Linked DNA regions of Homo sapiens: region 2 is linked to region 1. A link means that fine-mapping ties the variant in region 1 to the expression of a gene that starts in the linked region. Tissue or cell type: blood mononuclear cells. Region 1 holds a variant in brackets; the other region holds the start of a gene. All regions are shown on one strand. Distances are between the middles of the regions.

Region 1 (8,101 bases):
CCCCTCAATCTGGCCCTCAGATGACAACAATGGAAGCAGTGGAGTCCCCGGAGTCCCTGGCCGCCGTTGCTTACCTGCTGAACCTTGTCCTGAAGCGGTGAGTTCTGCCTCCTGTTTGAACCCCAAGGCTTTTTGTGGAGGGGAGAAGGGAATGTGGACAGGAGAAACAGGATCAGGGAATTGTTATTTAAAAAGATACTTGCTCTTCATGAACATTGTCTAGAGGCATGCAGAATGGGCCAGCATGTGACATACCGTCGTAGGCCTCTAGTGAGAAACTCTAACTAAACTAGGCTGTCCTGAACCCCTGGTAATAGAATCATTTACCTTTATGCCAAGAAGGTTGGGAAAGCACCAAAATCTTCACGTGGTGTGTGTCCAGGCAGACATTCAGGAGCTCGTGCTGTGAGATCTAAAGTTGTTATTTGATAGTCCAAAACAAAAGGCATGTCTATAGGGCCTGCAGTGCTTCCCTGGTTCCATGTGTGCTCAGTGTGTTCATGACAGAATCAAGTGTGCTTTCCTTATTGAGGAGCAGAAAATCATTGTGAAAGTGTTGAAGGCAAAAGCAGAGTCAGAAAGCTCTATTGAAAATGAAACTTTTTTGGCCTGGTGCGGTGGTTCACACCTATAATCCCAGCACTTTGGGTGGCCGAGGCAGGCAGATCAAGAGGTCAGGAGATCGAGACCATCCTGGCCAACATGGTGAAACCCCGCCTCTACTAAAAATATAAAAATTAGCTGGGTAGGCTACATGCTGTGGCTCACGCCTGTAATCCCAGCACTTTGGGAGGCTGAGGTGGGCAGATCGCCTGTAATCCCAGCACTTTGGGAGGCTGAGGTGGGCAGATCACCTGAGGTCAGGAGTTCGAGACCAAACTGGCCAACATGGTGAAACCCCGTCCCTACTAAAAACACAAAAATTAGCTGGGCATGGTGGCAGGTGCCTGTAATTCAGCTACTCGGGAGGCTGAGGCAGGAGAATTGCTTGAACCCAGTAGGCAGAGGTAGCAGTGAGCTGAGATCATGCCATTGCACTTACAGCCCTGTCAACAGTGCAAGACTCCGTCTCAAAAAAAAAAAAATAGAAAGAAAATGAAATTTGTTTTGAGTAATAAAAATTAAAAGTCATGGCTGGACGCAGTGGCTCATACCTGTAATCCCAGCACTTTTGGAGGCTGAGGCAGGAGGATTGCTTGCGGCCAGGAGTTGGAGACCAGCCTGGCCAACATGGTGAAACCCGATCTCTACTAAAAATACAAAATTAGCCAGGTGTAGTGGTACATGCCTGTAATCCCAGCTACTTGGGAGGCTGAGGCAGGAGAATCACTTGAACACAGAATGTGGAGGTTGCATTGAGCCAAGATCAAGCCACTGCAGTCCAGCCTGGGCAACAGAGTGAGACTCCATCTCAATAAATAAATAAGTAATAAAGTAAAAAATAAAAAACCTTGATTCTTTAAGATGAAAAAGTTCTTGAGATTGGTTGCACAACAATGTGAGTATACTTGGCTGGGTGTGGTGACACATACCTATAATCCCAGCACTTTGGGAGGCTGAGGCAGGTGGACTGTTGAGCCCAGGAGTTCGAAACCAGCCTGGGCAACATGGCAAAACCTTGTCTCTACAAAAAAATACAAAAATGAGCTAGGCGTGGTGGCATGCACCTGTAGTCCCAACTACTTGGGAGGTAGAGGTTGCAGTGAGCCTAATTGTGCCACTACACTCCAGCTTGGGTGACGAGTGAGACCCTGTCTCCAAAAAAAGAAAAAAAAAAAACCCACAACATGAATATACTTAACAGTACTGAATGATATACCGAAAAATATCGTTGAAATGGTGTGTTGTTTTTTTCCTTTTTGAGACAGAGTCTCGCTCTGTTGCCCAGGCTGGAGTGCAGTGGCGCCACCTCCTCCCACTGCAACTCCACCTCCTGGGTTCACACCGTTCTCGTGCCTCAGCCTGTCAAGTAGCTGGGACTACAGGCGCCCGCCACCACGTCTGGCTAATTGTTTGTATTTTTAGTAGAGACCGGGTTTCACTGTGTTAGCCAGGATGGTCTCGATCTCCTGACCTCATGATCCACCCGCCTCGGCCTCCCAAACTGCTGGGATTACAGGCGTGAGCCACTGCGTCCGGCCGAAATGATGTTTTATCTTATGTGTATTTTACCACAATTAGAAATTTATTTATTTATTTATTTATTTTTGAGACAGAGTTTCGCTCTTGTTGCCCAGGCTAGAGTGCAATGGTGCAATCTCAGCTCACCACACCCTCCACCTCCCGGGTTCAAGTGATTCTCCTGCCTTGGCCTCCCAAGTAGCTGGGATTACAGGCGGGCGCCATCACGCCCAGCTAATTTTGTATTTTTAGTAGATACAGGGTTTCTCCATGTTTGTCAGGCTGGTCTCAAACTCCCGACCTCAGGTTATCTGCCCACCTTGGCCTCCCATAGTGCTGGGATTACAGGCGTGAGCCACCATGCCTGGCCAGAAATTTTAAAATACAATTTAAAAGATACTTGTATATCAGGTGGCATTCTACAACATAAGGTCCTGGGTGACTGGGTCATTATACCAGGGAGTGTGAGTGTTGGCCCCCAGAAGGGGCATTCCTGGAGCAGTGAGTGGCAGAAGGGAGGGAAGGAGTAGTTGGCCCCAGGCTTTCTGGAGATGTGAACTGCCAGGGGAGGTGGAGAGAGGATTGGTGTCCTGAGTTTAGGAGTGGGTAGTGGGAAGGTGAGAGAGGCAGGGATCCCGGGTGGAAAGCACACTGAGCTGGCTGATAAGGTGGGTGCCTATTCTGACTTTGTTGCTCACTTTCTGAGTGACTGTGCCACCAGCGCCCCTTGCCCTGTCCTCCTTAGTACCACGAGGGGCTGCACCAGCTGCTCTTCAGGGACCCTCTGGGGTGACCATCTCTGTTCTTTCCCACAGTGTTCCCAGCCCTGTGCTTATTAAGAAGTTCTCTGATACCTCCAAAGCCTTCATGGATATCATGTCAGCTCAGGCCAGCAGCGGCTCCACCTCTGTCCTCCGATGGGTTAGTGTCTGGGGTTTAGTTTCTCATCTGGCGACTCCCAGAGCCTGTCTGATTTGGTGATGCTTAGATGTTCCCTGAGAGGGGTTTAGGCACCCTGGGGACCTCAGACAGATGCGATTTTCTGGAGTCAGTGAGAACCTGGGCTCTTTTCCCTCCTGGCCGAGGCTGGTGGCACTGAGGGACTCTGACTTTCTTCCAGGTCCTTTCCTGCCTGGCCACCCTTCTGCGGAAGCAAGACCTGGAGGCCTGGGGCTACCCCGTGACCCTTCAGGTGTACCATGGGCTGCTGAGCTTCACGGTGCATCCCAAGCCCAAGGTGAGACTACTAGCTCCCTAGAAAATGGGGCAAGGGGACAGCCACCACTCAGCCCAGTGCAGCCCAGACTTGGCTAGCTGAGTGGCACTGGGGAGCTTGCCCTGAGTACTGGCTTCTGCTTTCTGCTTCTGAGGCACCATGCATTTAGATGCAGAAGGCAGGGCGGCTCTTCCTCCTCCAGGAGGCTGTTCCCTGTCAGCCCTATCTGAGTCTCTGGTGCCTCATCAGCCATTGCCCTGTTGACGTGGACTCTCCCCATATGTCTATTTACCTCGGCAGGGAGGGTGGCATAGTTGGGGGAGTCACACAGACCTGAGTTGGATCCTGAATTCACTGCTCGAGGTGTGACCTTGGGCAAGTTACTTAATCTCTCTGAGCCTCAACTTCCTGACTATGAAATAGAGATAATTGGCTGAATGTGGTGGCTCACGCCTGTAATCCCAGCACTTTGGGAGGCCAAAGTGGGAGGATCATTTGAGGTCGGGAGTTTGAAACCAGCCTGGCCAACATAGTGAAACCTCGACTCTACTAAAAATATAAAAATTAGCCAGGTGTGGTGGTGGGTGCTTGTAATCCCAGCTACTCGGGAGGCTGAGGCAGGAGAATCGCTTGAACCCAGCAGGCAGAGGTTGCAGTGAGCCAAGATTGCACCACTGCACTCCAGCCTGGGCAACAGAACGAGACTCCATCTCAAAAGAAAAAAAAAGAAATAGAGATAATCACACCTACTTTGCTACAGAGTTGTGGGGAGACTCCAGTGTTCCCCACAGGCCTGGCGCACCTCCTGGCTCACGGCAGGTGCTTGGTGAGTGATGGTTCCCCACTGTTTCCTCTGGAAATTTAGGGCAGGAGGTGGTAACAATAACAGTCATGTAATCACTCCCAGTGCTAAGCACCGTCAGCCCAGATGGTCTCATGCCCCCTTCCCTCGGTGCTCACATGATCTTTTCCTCACCTTCAGCTCTCGCTGCAGTGGCACTTCACTGCGGTGACACTTTCCTGACCACTGTATAAAAAGTAGCAGCCCCTTGGCTGGGCGCGGTGGCTCACGGCTGTAATCCCAGCACTTTGGGAGGCCGAGGCGGGCGGATCACGAGGTCAGGAGATCGAGACCATCCTGGCTAACATAGTGAAACCCCGTCTCTACTAAAAATACAAAAAATTAGCCGGGTGTGGTGGCGGGCGCCTGTAGTCCCAGCTGCTCGGGAGGCGGAGGCAGGAGAATGGCGTGAACCTGGGAGGCGGAGCTTGCAGTGAGCCGAGATCCGCCACTGCACTCCGCCTGGGCTACAGAGCAAGACTCTGTCTCAAACAAACAACAACAACAAAAGTAGCAGCCCCTGCTTGGTTATCTGCAAAGTACTTTTTAACCTTCTGTTATGT[A/G]TTTGTTTTCTGCCTCCCAGCTGGAAGGGGAGTTGCCTGCTGTTCAGTGCCAGTTTGCCAGGACCTAGAACAGTGCCTGGCTTGGTGGACACACAGTGTTTGCCGGATGATTAAGTGAATGAAGAAACCCCTGTTTTCAAGATGATATTGAAACTCAGAAATTAAGTAGTTGGGCTTGCTTAAGGCCATTTGGTGAGTTAGTTGTAGAGCAGGGATTTGAACTGAGGTTTGTCTTGCTTCACAGCTCAGGATTCTGTACACATGAAGGCCCTGGTGTAGCACTGGATCTATAGTAGTCAGATCATCATTGGATCTATATTTCAGCCAAAGCTAATTGGTTGGTGCTTGTGCCGGACACCCAAGATGCTGGTGGAACGCTGATCTGGCCTTGTCTCCTGCTCTCCTTGCCCCTCAGATCCGGAAGGCTGCCCAGCATGGAGTATGCTCAGTCCTCAAGGGCAGTGAATTCATGTTTGAAAAGGCCCCTGCCCATCATCCTGCTGCCATTTCCACTGCCAAGTTCTGCATCCAGGAGATTGAGAAGTCTGGAGGTGGGGAACCCAAATGGAGGGCAGGTGGATGGGAGGCAGTGGCTGGCAGAGCAGGACAGGGCCTGCGGTAGGGCGGGGCTGGTGTCTCAATTCCTCTTCTGTATACCAGGCTCCAAGGAGGCCACCACCACGCTGCACATGCTGACGCTGCTGAAGGACCTGCTGCCCTGCTTCCCGGAAGGCCTGGTGAAGAGCTGCAGTGAGACTCTCCTCAGGGTCATGACCTTGAGCCATGTGGTGAGCTCAGGCCCAAAAGCTGGAGAAAGGGGGACCTGCAGTGGTGGCATTTGGGGAACTCACTGGTCAGTCAAAATGCAGGGCCTGGGGTCTCCCTCCCTGACTGTGTTCTTAAGCTAAAACCAACAGCACTACGTTACTCTGTGGTGTTTGGCTAGGCCAGGCCATATCAGAGTCCCCTTCCAGATGGAAGCTGACCTCAGAGATCAGGTCAGAGTCAGGGTGGATCTGTAGTGGGCTGGTAAACCCTCCTTCTGCACCAGCTCTATGTACCCTATACCAATTTTTTTTTTTTTTTTTTTTTTTTTTTGAGACCGAGTTTTGCTCTTGTTGCACAGCTGGAGTGCAATGGCGCGATCTTGGCTCACTGCAACCTCTGGCTCCCGGGTTCAAGCGATTCTTCTGCCTCAGCCTCCCAAGTAGCTGGGATTACAGGCATGCACCACCACGCCCAGCTAATTTTTTGTATTTTTAGTAGAGATGGGGTTTCTCCATGTTGATCAGGCTGGTCTTGAACTCCCAACCTCAGGTGATCTGCCCGCCTCAACCTCCCAAAGTTCTGGGATTACAGGCGTGAGCCACTGCGCCCGGTCGAGTTTTTTTTTTTTAGCAGCTTTAAAGACACATGAAAAATGATTTCCTGTGTTTCTACCATTTCTAGCACAATTCTGTAAATCTTTATACAGTCAGCTCTTTGTATGTGTGGTTCCCACAGCCATAAATTCAACCAACCTTGGATTGAAAATATTTGGAAACTGGGCATGGCTGCACGCGCCTATAATCCCAGATGCTTGGGAGGTGGAAGTGGGAGGATTGCTTGAGCCCAGGAGGTTGAGGCTGTAGTGAGCCATGGTCATGCCACTGCACTCCAACTTGGGCAACAGAGCAAGAACCCCATGTCAAAAAAAAAAAAAAAGGAAAAAGAAAAAAAAGGAAAGAAAAAGAAAAGAAAATATTCAGGAAAAAGAAAATGGTTGGTTGCTTCTGTACTGAACATGTACAGTTTTTTTTCCTTGTCATTATTCCTTAGACAACAGAGTGTAGCAACTATTTACATAGCATTTATATTGTATTACGTATTATAAGTAATCCAGGTGATTTAAAGTGTATGGGAGGATGCGTGTAGGTTATATGGAAATACTACACCATTTAATATAGAGACTTGAGCATTGGTAGATTTTTATGTCCATGGGGGGTCCTGGAACCAATCCCCCACAGATACCCCCGCCAACTCACTGTGTGTTCTCTCTCTTTTTTTTTTTGTGATGGAGTCTCGCTCTGTCACCCAGGCTGGAGTGCAGTGGCGTGGTCTCGGCTCACTGCAAACTCCGCCTTCCGGGTTCACGCCATTCTCCTGCCTCAGCCTCCCGAGTAGCTGGGACTACAGGCGCCCGCCACCACACCTGACTAGTTTTTTGTATTTTTAGTAGACACGGGGTTTCACCGTGTTAGCCAGGATGCTCTCGATCTCCTGGCCTCGTGATCCACTCACCTCGGCCTCCCAAAGTGCTGGGATTACAGATGTGAGCCTCTGCACCCGGCCTTGTATATTCTCTTGTAGTGTTTATTTACATACATATTTTTAAAATTGTAAAATATAAATAATATGATCATTGTTTAAAAGGGAAAAACAATTCAGAAGTGTATAAAGTAAAAATCTCCTTCCCTCCAAATCCTGTTTCCTAAGGTAGACAGTGCAAATAACTTTCTGGGTATCCTTTCAGACATTTTCTCTTTGGATAAACAAATATACATGATAAAACATGTAAAGGCCAGGTGCAGTGGCTCACACCTGTAACCTTAGCACTTGGGAGGCTAAGGCAGGAGGCAAGGAATTTGAGACCAGCTTGGGCAACATAGTGAGACGAGACTCTGTCTTTATAAAAATTAAAAAATTGGCCAGGCACAGTGGCATGCACCTGTATTGGTCTCACCCCTGTATCCAGCAACGGAGCAAGATTCTGTCTCAAAAAAAAAAAAAAAAAAAATACAGCTGTAACAGACCGTTTATAGCCTGCTTTTTTGGCTGTTATGTTAAAACCATTTTGTTAATGTTTCTATCTTTGTTTAAGACATTTAAAGCTTTTTCAGTGGCTTCCATGTCTTACTAAGGTGGCAGTCCTCAGGGTGTCTCTGTGTGGGGGGCATGTGTGAGGTTCAGGGGGCCCTCAACTCCCTAGCACACAGGTGGAGTTGAGGGGTCCAGGGCCAGCCGTGGGCTTTGTAGTTCCTTTCTAAGCCTGTGTGTCCCCCTCCAGCTGGTGACAGCCTGTGCCATGCAGGCCTTTCACAGCCTCTTCCACGCCAGGCCTGGCCTGAGCACCCTGTCAGCAGAGCTCAACGCCCAGATCATCACGGTGAGGCCTGTTGGTGGGATGTGGGGGCATTAGGTCGGGGGTGGTGCCTTGGGAGGCTGTGCTGGGGGCACTGGCCCTGCGCCTTGTCTACAGAGTGAGGTTGGCTGGGCTGGGTTGTCCTAGTGGAAGAGGCCAGTAGAAGGGGAAGGAAGATTGGAGACCAGCCATCAAATTCACATCAGTGTCCCCAGGAGCTGGGACCTTGACCCTTGACC
Region 2 (8,101 bases), 70 kb after region 1:
GTAAATAAGATAAAAAATAAAAACACAGATGAACGGTTACTGGATTATAATGTGTTTAGAGTGCTAACTTGCTTTATGTAGAGAGGCTTTAGTTTTTCCCAATTTTCCTTTTTTAGGAGTGGGTTGTTCTGCATGGGCCCTAAGGTTGAGTCTGAACTTAACCAGTCATTCTTATTACAAGAAGCTATGCACAGTCGGTGCAGTGACATCAAATCATAGCCTATTTCAGGATGGAAAGCCCTGGATTGCTCATAACCCCTTGACCTTGGATAAATCGTACATCAACTAAGAATGGGAACTGGGGACTTCAGGGCTACTCCCATGCCAGGGGACATCAGCACCTGGCCACTTTCCCCTCATGCTCAGCGCCCAGAGGTGGTGCCCACTACACTATTGGGGGCTCCTTTTCCTCAGTTTGTATTAGAGCCTCCATAGTTACCCTTCCCATGCTGGAGAACACTGGACTGAGGCCCCCACAGCCCTTTCTGGGCATGTTGTGGGAAATGGCAGGCTTGGTGTGTTCTGAAGGTACTCCTCAGAGACCATCAGCGTCTGTGTGTGAATTTGAGAAAATGGGGCATTGAACCAAAAAGGAAGTTAGAAAATCAGGACTCGAAGTCATAGAACACTCCAGAAAGCAGATTTGGGATCATGGCATGCTCTTGTTTTGTGGGAAAATGAGGACACCTGGGACACCGCCACCTGGGAAGGAAGGGGTAGGGACTAGATACTGTTCATCTGCAGCATGTGCCAGTCACCATATGCCTTTTATTAATTTATTTTTTTGAGGCAGGGTCTTGCTCTGCCACCCAGGTGGGAGTGCAGTAGCTCAATCATGGCTTACGACAGCCTCAAACTCCTAGGCTCAAGCAATCCTCTTGCCTCATTTATTTATTTATTTTATTTTATCTTATTTGAGACAGAGTCTCGCTCTGTCGCCCAGGCTGGAGTGCAGTGGCGCGATCTCAGCTCACTGCAACCTCTGCCTCCCAGGTTCAAGCGATTCTCCTGCCTCAGCCTCCTGAGTACCTGGGATTATGGGCATGCACCACCATGCCCAGTTAATTTTTGTATTTTTAGTAGAGATGGGGTTTCACCATGTTGGTCAGGCTGGTCTTGAACTCCTGACCTCGTGATCAGCCCTTCTTGGCCTCCCAAAGTGCTGGGATTGCAGGCATGAGCCACTGTGCCCGGCCATTTATCTATTTATTTTTGGAGAGGTGAGGTCTCACTATGTTGCCCTGGCTGGTCTTGAACTTCTGGGCTCCAGCAATCCTCCACTTTAGCCTCCCAAAGTGCTACTAGGATTACAGGTGTAAACTACTGGGCCTGGCCCACCTTTTATTTCATTATCCCTGTTGTACGGATGAGGAAACTGAAGCCACAGAGGTAGAGCAACTTGTCCAAGGTTCCCTTCCCACTTCAGAAGTGGGCTTAAACTCTGGGTACTCTTTCCTCAGAGGGAGGAAATTAGCTCCTTCCATGAGGGAACAGACTGAAGTAAGTCAGAACCATAAGGATAGACATGGCCTGTTATGTCACTGCTTAGGGACAGAATGGTATAAATGTGCCAGGGGCAAAGACAGGAGTCTTTTGTAAGTTTCCACCCAGCTTTCCTACCACCAGGCTCACATTGTGAGCAGTCTCCTAATCAAGAGCTGCCCCAGCCTTAAGGCCCACCTTGTGGAACAAGTGCACTTAATGGCCACGGTGAGAAAGAAGAAAAAAAGAAAAAGAAAAAAAAAAAGATAAGCCTCCCAGTTTGCAGTGACTGGCTGATCTGATGTCCTTTGCTAATAGAGGCAGCTTTATAACACATCTCCATCACTGACTAGTAATCCAAAAGGCTCTGAGGTTTTAACGAATGGGATTGGTCCAAAACCTGACCTCACTTTCATTTAATTTCATGCCAGCTCCAATACACACCCAGCTGCGGAGACCTTGTCTAGCTAGTGAGCTGCTCAGACACAAAGGCGCTCTAATTACCATCCACAAGCCAGGCTGACAGAGATTTCAAGTGTTTTCATGTTTATGGAGATCAGAGAAATGTGTTCTGTACATCTTTTTCACTGATGGCAAGTATAAAATAAAACCAAACAAAAAACCCAACACATTTATTCAAAGCAGGCATTTCAGTTAAGTTAAAATCCTATAATCAGGATAGCCACAATTCCAGACACTCCGGTGCGAAGTGTAGATATGTCAGTAGCCACATCTGGATGATGAACAAGCCATTGACTATAAAAACGAGAACAACAGCACAGTCTCAGCGCCTTTAGAGTGAGTGAACAGTATGTTCCAAGCACTTCACCATGGTTCACAATGGCAAAGCCTGCAGCTTCTCCATTTGGAGGGTCACATTTTCTACTCGGTTTCCTGCACTTACAAAGGCCAGCTGGCATGGCTGGGGGAGGGGCAGAGGGAGGAAATCAACTCGTCTATCCAGGGAATTGCAGCTGTTATTGCAAATGGCCCCGGAGAGCCCATTATAAGCTGCTGTGCTAGGCTGTGTGTCCCTGGAGTGTCCATCACATGGCGTCTCCCTAGCCCCCAACCCAGGCCCCCAGGATCCCAGAGCCACCCGCTTGAGTAGGACTGCAGAGCCGAGTAGGAGAGGAGGAACCCAGGGCCCGGTCTCGGGAGTTTCCGTGAAAGCCCGGAGCGCGGCCAGGGGCGGTGGTCGCCTACCGAAGCACAGCCGCCCAGCACGTCCGCGCTTTCCCACACCCGCGGTGGCGGCGACGCGCGTGTCCTCAGGAGACTCCAGCACTTGCAAAACACTGCGCTCTTCTCCGAGCACCGGCAGAACCTGGCTACTCTGTCCCGCAACCCAGTGCGTGCCCAGGAAACAGTGACCTTGAACCGAGGAGAGGCGGGCCGGCTCTGAAAATACACTTTAGACAGGGCGTGGGGTTCACTCCGCGCCTCTCTACCCTTCCACCACCATTCAATACTCCCCGCCCCCACCTCCTTTCCCCACCCGTGTCGTACAGCCTTCCCCCACCACTCTGAGAAGAGAGACAGTTGCAAAGAGAGCGCAGGGGTTAACTCCTATTCAACCCCCAAAGGGTCCCTTCATGGCACCGCATGTTTGGTATTAAGCAGCACCTCCAAAGACACAAGATGGTTTTTTTAAGTCTGGCAGATTGGGCTGCACCCTGAAATTATCTACTCATGTTCTCCTCCCCCAAAGTGGATCAGGAGCCAGCCCTGAAAAGGTAAAGCAAGTAACTGGCATCATCCTCCGTGGTTCCGGCGCACCGCGATCCGGAGAAGCGTGGATTGTGGCCACATGGTCGCGGGGCTGGAGGGCACTGAGAGGCTGCGAGGAAATGCAGGCTCCGCGGCCAGGTCGGGTCACGCCAAATAAGGAGTCCTACTGACTTGTACGTTTGAGGTGCGCTCTGTAAAATCTGCCTTAAATAGGGCCAAAGTCCTTCATTCCAAATATTTTGGCCCTCAACCCCAGTTACCCGCGAAACACTCGCGATTTTTCGGTTCCTCGTCATTAGCTTTTTACTCTCGCTTCCAAAAGCCAGAGTTCTCCACCAGCCTGAGTAGAACTGCAGCCCTCAAGGGAACCCCTTGCCCTCCAGTCTGAGGCTGGCGCTGTGGCCACCCCGGGCGTGTTAGCTGCCAGGCACAAGAACGCCGTCGCCAGTTCTGAGCTGCGCCCTCCCGGAGGCGCCAGGGTCACTGCAGGCCGCGCGAGGGCTGCGAGGCGAAGGGGGTTCATGCACCGGGGCCGACAGAGGTCCCAGGAGCGGGCGTTGGGGAAGCTTTGCACGTAACTGCAGCCGTCGCGAATGAAGCCTTCGCACGGCCTCCTTGATGAGGTTTCCAGAGAGCACTAGCTGCTGCAGAAGCCGGTGCGGGTCGTCGTCGCCTGTGCGGGTTTCTGGTTGGGACCCGCGTCGCTGCTGCAGGCGGCGGGAGGCGGCGGCGCCCCGGAGCCATCCTCGCCGGCACGGACCCGACAGCGGCTGCGGGATGCCCTGCTTGCCAGCTCCCGGAGGCCCATCAAGGTCGGCCTGAGGGGGCAGTGGGGACAGCGCGCTGGGGCCTGTGGCGAGCTCGGCCACGCAGTAGGGCGCAGCGCGGCCCCGCACGCGGCCGCGGTCCCCCAGGGCGCAGCGCAGGACCCCAGGGGGCGCCGGGCCCACAGTCTCCGCCAACGCGGGCGGCAGCAGCAGCGGCACCGCCGGGGACCTGGCCTTGTCCGCCGGCACCGCCGCAGCCAGGGGCCCCGGGGCCCGCAGCGGCGCCCCCGGGGGCCCGCACGGCGAGGCCGGGCTGTGCTGCGCCGCGTCCAGCTGCAGCGTCTCGCCGATCTGGGCCACCAGCCGGTCCACCTCGCCCGAGCTGCCCAGCGCCACTGACTGCTGCAGTAGGAGGAAGCTGTCCTCCTCCTCTTCCTCCCCCTCCGCCTCCTCGCCGGCTTCCTCTTCCTCCTCCCTCCGGCACGGCATGGCCCCCTGTCTGGGCACCCGGAGCTGTGCGGGCGTCGCTGGGGGCTCGGCTGCCGGCGGGCGCGGTGGGCCGCGGCGGAGCGGGCGCGGAGCTGAAGACTAAGTCTGGACCGGGGCCGGGGCGGACGCGGAAGCCGGAGCCCGCCAGGCACTCTAGCCGCGCGCCTGCAGCCGCGGGAGCCGGAATCCTGCCGGCTCGGGTTGATTTGTAAACAATGGGTGACGTCACGTCGGGCCCTACCACCGCGCCGGGGAGGGGGTGCTGTGCCGCTGGGGGACGGCGCTTCTGTGGGATTGGGGGTCTGGGTGAAGCCGGACTGCCTTCTGAGCTCCTTCGCTCAGGGTGCTGTCTGCAAGGGCGCCCTGGGGACCTGATCCTGGCTCCCGCAGTCGGGCGCGATTGGCATTTCCAGAAATGGGCACCAGCGTGAACCCTGTTGGTTTCTTCCACACACAAGCAAGCACGCACACTAACACACACCCACCCACCCACACACCCCTTCTCTCCGTGCGTCAACTCAACCGGTTTTTAGCGTTTGCGCTTTTGAGGTCCGGCATGCGGGCGTCTGGTGAGGATGGAAAGGAAAGGGAGTCAGGCTAGGGATTTGTACGGAGATTAGGGAAATGAAGCTGACGGGAATGGAAAGGAAGAAGGGGACCTTGTCGTTCGATGGAGGTGGCAGAGTTGGAAATGGCAAAGAAAGGCCACAGATTAATGTTTTTTGATCGAGATCCTGGGCGGATGGGGGCCTGGACTGGGGTTGGCATTGCTGGAGAGGAGGTTGCTAGTCTTTTTGTTTATTTGTTTGTTTGTTTTTTTGAGACGGAGTCTCGCTCTATCGCCCAGGCTGGAGTGCAGTGGCTCGATCTCCACTCACTACAACCTCCGCCTCCTGCGTTTAAGCAATTCTCCTGCCTCAGCCTTCCGAGTAGCTGGGATTACAGGCGCCCACCACCACGCCCGGCTAATTTTTGTATTTTTAGTAGAGACGGGGTTTCACCATGTTGGCCAGGCTGGTCTCGAACTCCTGACCTCAGGTGATCCACCCGCCTCAGCCTCCCAAAGTGCTGGGATTACAGGCGTGAGCCACTGCGCCCGGCCTAGGTTGCTACTCTTTTTGTTTTGTTTTGTTTTTTTGAGACAGAGTTTCGCTCTTGTTGCCCAGGCTGGAGTACAATGGCGCAATCTCCGCTCACCACAACTTCCGCCTCCTGGGTTCAAGCAGTTCTCCTGCCTCAGCCTCCCGAGTTGCTGGGATTACAGGCATGCGCCGCCATGCCCAGCCTAATTTTGTGTTTTTAGCAGAGATGGGGTTTCTCCATATTGGTCAGGCTGGTCTGGTACTCCCGACCTCAGGTGATCCACCTGCCTCGGCCTCCCAAAATCCTGGGATTACAAGCGTGAGCCACCACGCCTGGCTATAGGTTGTTAGTCTTAAGAGGGGCTATGTCCAGAAAGTTGTTTAAAAAAAAGCCTCAGACCAGTAGGGGGGATGGGCTCTGAGGAGGTACGTAGTAGCAGAGAAAAATACCTGTTTGGATGAAAATGGAGATACGCTTCCTTCCTTCCTTTCTTCCTTTTCTTTCTCTTTCTTTTCTTTCTTTGACAGAATTTCACTCTGTCACCCAGGCTGGAGTGCAGTGGTGTGATCTGGCTGATTGCAGCCTTGACTTCCCAGGATCAGGTGATCCTCCCACCTCAGCCTCCCGAGTAGCTGGGACAATAGGCACGCGCCACTACACCTGGCTAATTTTTGTATTTTTAGTGGATACAGGGTTTCGCCATGTTGGCCCGTCCGGTCTCAAACTCCTGGACTCAAGCAATCCCTCCTCCCGAAATGCTGGCGTTACAGACATGAGCCACCGCGCCCAGCCTGGAAGCAACTTTAAAATTCTGAGCATGATATAGAAAATAGGATACAAAGAAAGAAATGAGCCTGGAGATCCAGATAAATAGAAAACGAGGGTCTTGTTGGGCAGTTCCAACGATAATAATTATAGGAGCAAACCTTTAGGAAGGGATGAGTGCAGGAAAGAGGTAGGGAAGTTGGTTTAAAAAGAGTTGGGTTTGTTTTTGTCAAGTGTGGAGGAAAAAATGTAAAAACAGAGGAAGAGACAGTTTAAACAAAGCCATTGGATTTCTAATCTACGAAATCTGGATTTCTACAGGGTGTCATAAGGTTCATCACCTTGTTTTTGTGGATTCCTTAGGATTTTCTATATAGAAGATCGTGTCATCTACAAATAGAGATAGTTTTGCTTCTCTTCTTTTTCTTTTTTCTTTTCTTTTTTTCTTTTTTTTTTTTTTTGAGACAGGGTCTCATTCTGTGGCCCAGGCTGGAGTGCAGTGGCATGATCTCTGCTCACTGCAGCCTTGACTTCCCCAGGCTCAGTTGATCCTCCTATCTCAGCCTCCTGAGTAGCTGGGACTACAGGTGCAAGCCACCATGCCTGGCTAATTTTTGTATTTTTTGTAGACCCAGGGGGTCTCACCATGTTGCTCGGGCAGGTCTTGAACTCCTGAGCTCAAACGATCCGCCCACCCCAGCTTCCTAAAGTGCTAAGATTACAGGCATGAGCCACAGCACCTGGCCCTGTCTTATTCCTGATCTTAGATGAAAACATTCAGTCTTTCACAACATTAGGTAGGATGTTAGCTGTGGATTTTTCATAGATAGTATTTATCAGGTTAAGAATGTTCCCTTCTATTCCTGGTTTGTTGGGCATTTGTTGTTGTTGTTGTTGTTGTTGTTATTGTTGTTGTGATGGAGTCTTGCTCTGTTGTCCAGGCTGGAGTGCAGTGGCACAATCTTCGCTCACTGCAACCTCTGCCTCCCGGGTTCAAGCAGTTCTCCTGCCTCAGCCTGCTAAGTAGCTGACACTGCAGGCGTGCACCACCATGCCTGGCTAATTTTTGTATTTTTAGTAGAGATGGGGTTTCACCATGTTGGCCAGGCTGGTCTTGAACTCCTGACTTCAGGTGATCCGCCTGCCTCGACCTCCCAAAGTGCTGGGATTTACAGGCATGAGCCACCAGACCCGGCCTACTTAAAATTTTCAAATGAAAATAATTAGTAGCAGTTTACAATTTGTGCATTTTTATCTTTGGCTCACAACTTATAAGCCTCATATATTGTTGTGGGCATGAAAAATGGTACAACCACCTTGGAAAAAGGCCTGACAGTTTCTTATAAAATGAAACATACACCTGTCCTGGAACACAGTTTCAATCCTGGATACTTAGCTAAGAGAAATAAACACATGGGCCCACATCAAGGCCTACAGGGAGGTGATCATAGCATATTTTTTTTTCTTTTTAATTGAGACAGGGTCTCCCTCTTTTGCCCAGGCTGGAGTGCAGTGGCACGATGTTGGCTCACATCAAAGGAGTTTTATTCATAAAAGCCAAAAGTGAAATGGCCCAAGTGTTCATCAACAGGTGAATGGACAAACAACCTATTGTACATTCACACAGGATGATGACAGAAAACAGTTCAGCAACAGAAAGGACTGAATATTGCTGCATGCAGTAACATGAATGAAGCTTAAAAACAGTATGCTAAGTGAAAGAAGCCAGATAAAAACGGATATATGTCATATGTTTCTGTTTATATGAAGTTCTAGAACAGGGA

Evidence for each region. PIP is the estimated chance that this variant, and not a neighbour inherited with it, causes the effect.
Region 2: FRAT1 starts here. The variant in region 1 is fine-mapped to the expression of FRAT1 in blood mononuclear cells (TOPMed, PIP 0.97).

Annotation. Positions count from the first base shown.
Region 1 is chr10:97,385,680-97,393,780 of GRCh38, reverse strand. It overlaps RRP12 (ribosomal RNA processing 12 homolog), which reads left to right. Exons shown (of 34, transcript NM_015179.4): 4 at 21-97; 5 at 2,937-3,042; 6 at 3,242-3,358; 7 at 5,157-5,292; 8 at 5,402-5,529; 9 at 7,788-7,886. It also overlaps the pseudogene RPL34P20. Among named protein-coding and RNA genes, the nearest start is that of RRP12, 12 kb to the left of the region's middle. The variant A/G (reference allele first, on the strand shown) is at 4,742.
Region 2 is chr10:97,315,822-97,323,922 of GRCh38, reverse strand. It overlaps FRAT1 (FRAT regulator of Wnt signaling pathway 1), which reads right to left and starts at 4,652. Exons shown (of 1, transcript NM_005479.4): 1 at 2,008-4,652. The coding sequence starts at 4,469. The coding sequence ends at 3,630. RefSeq lists enhancers at 3,268-3,427, 4,517-4,811, 4,549-5,338 and silencers at 3,768-3,867, 4,368-4,677.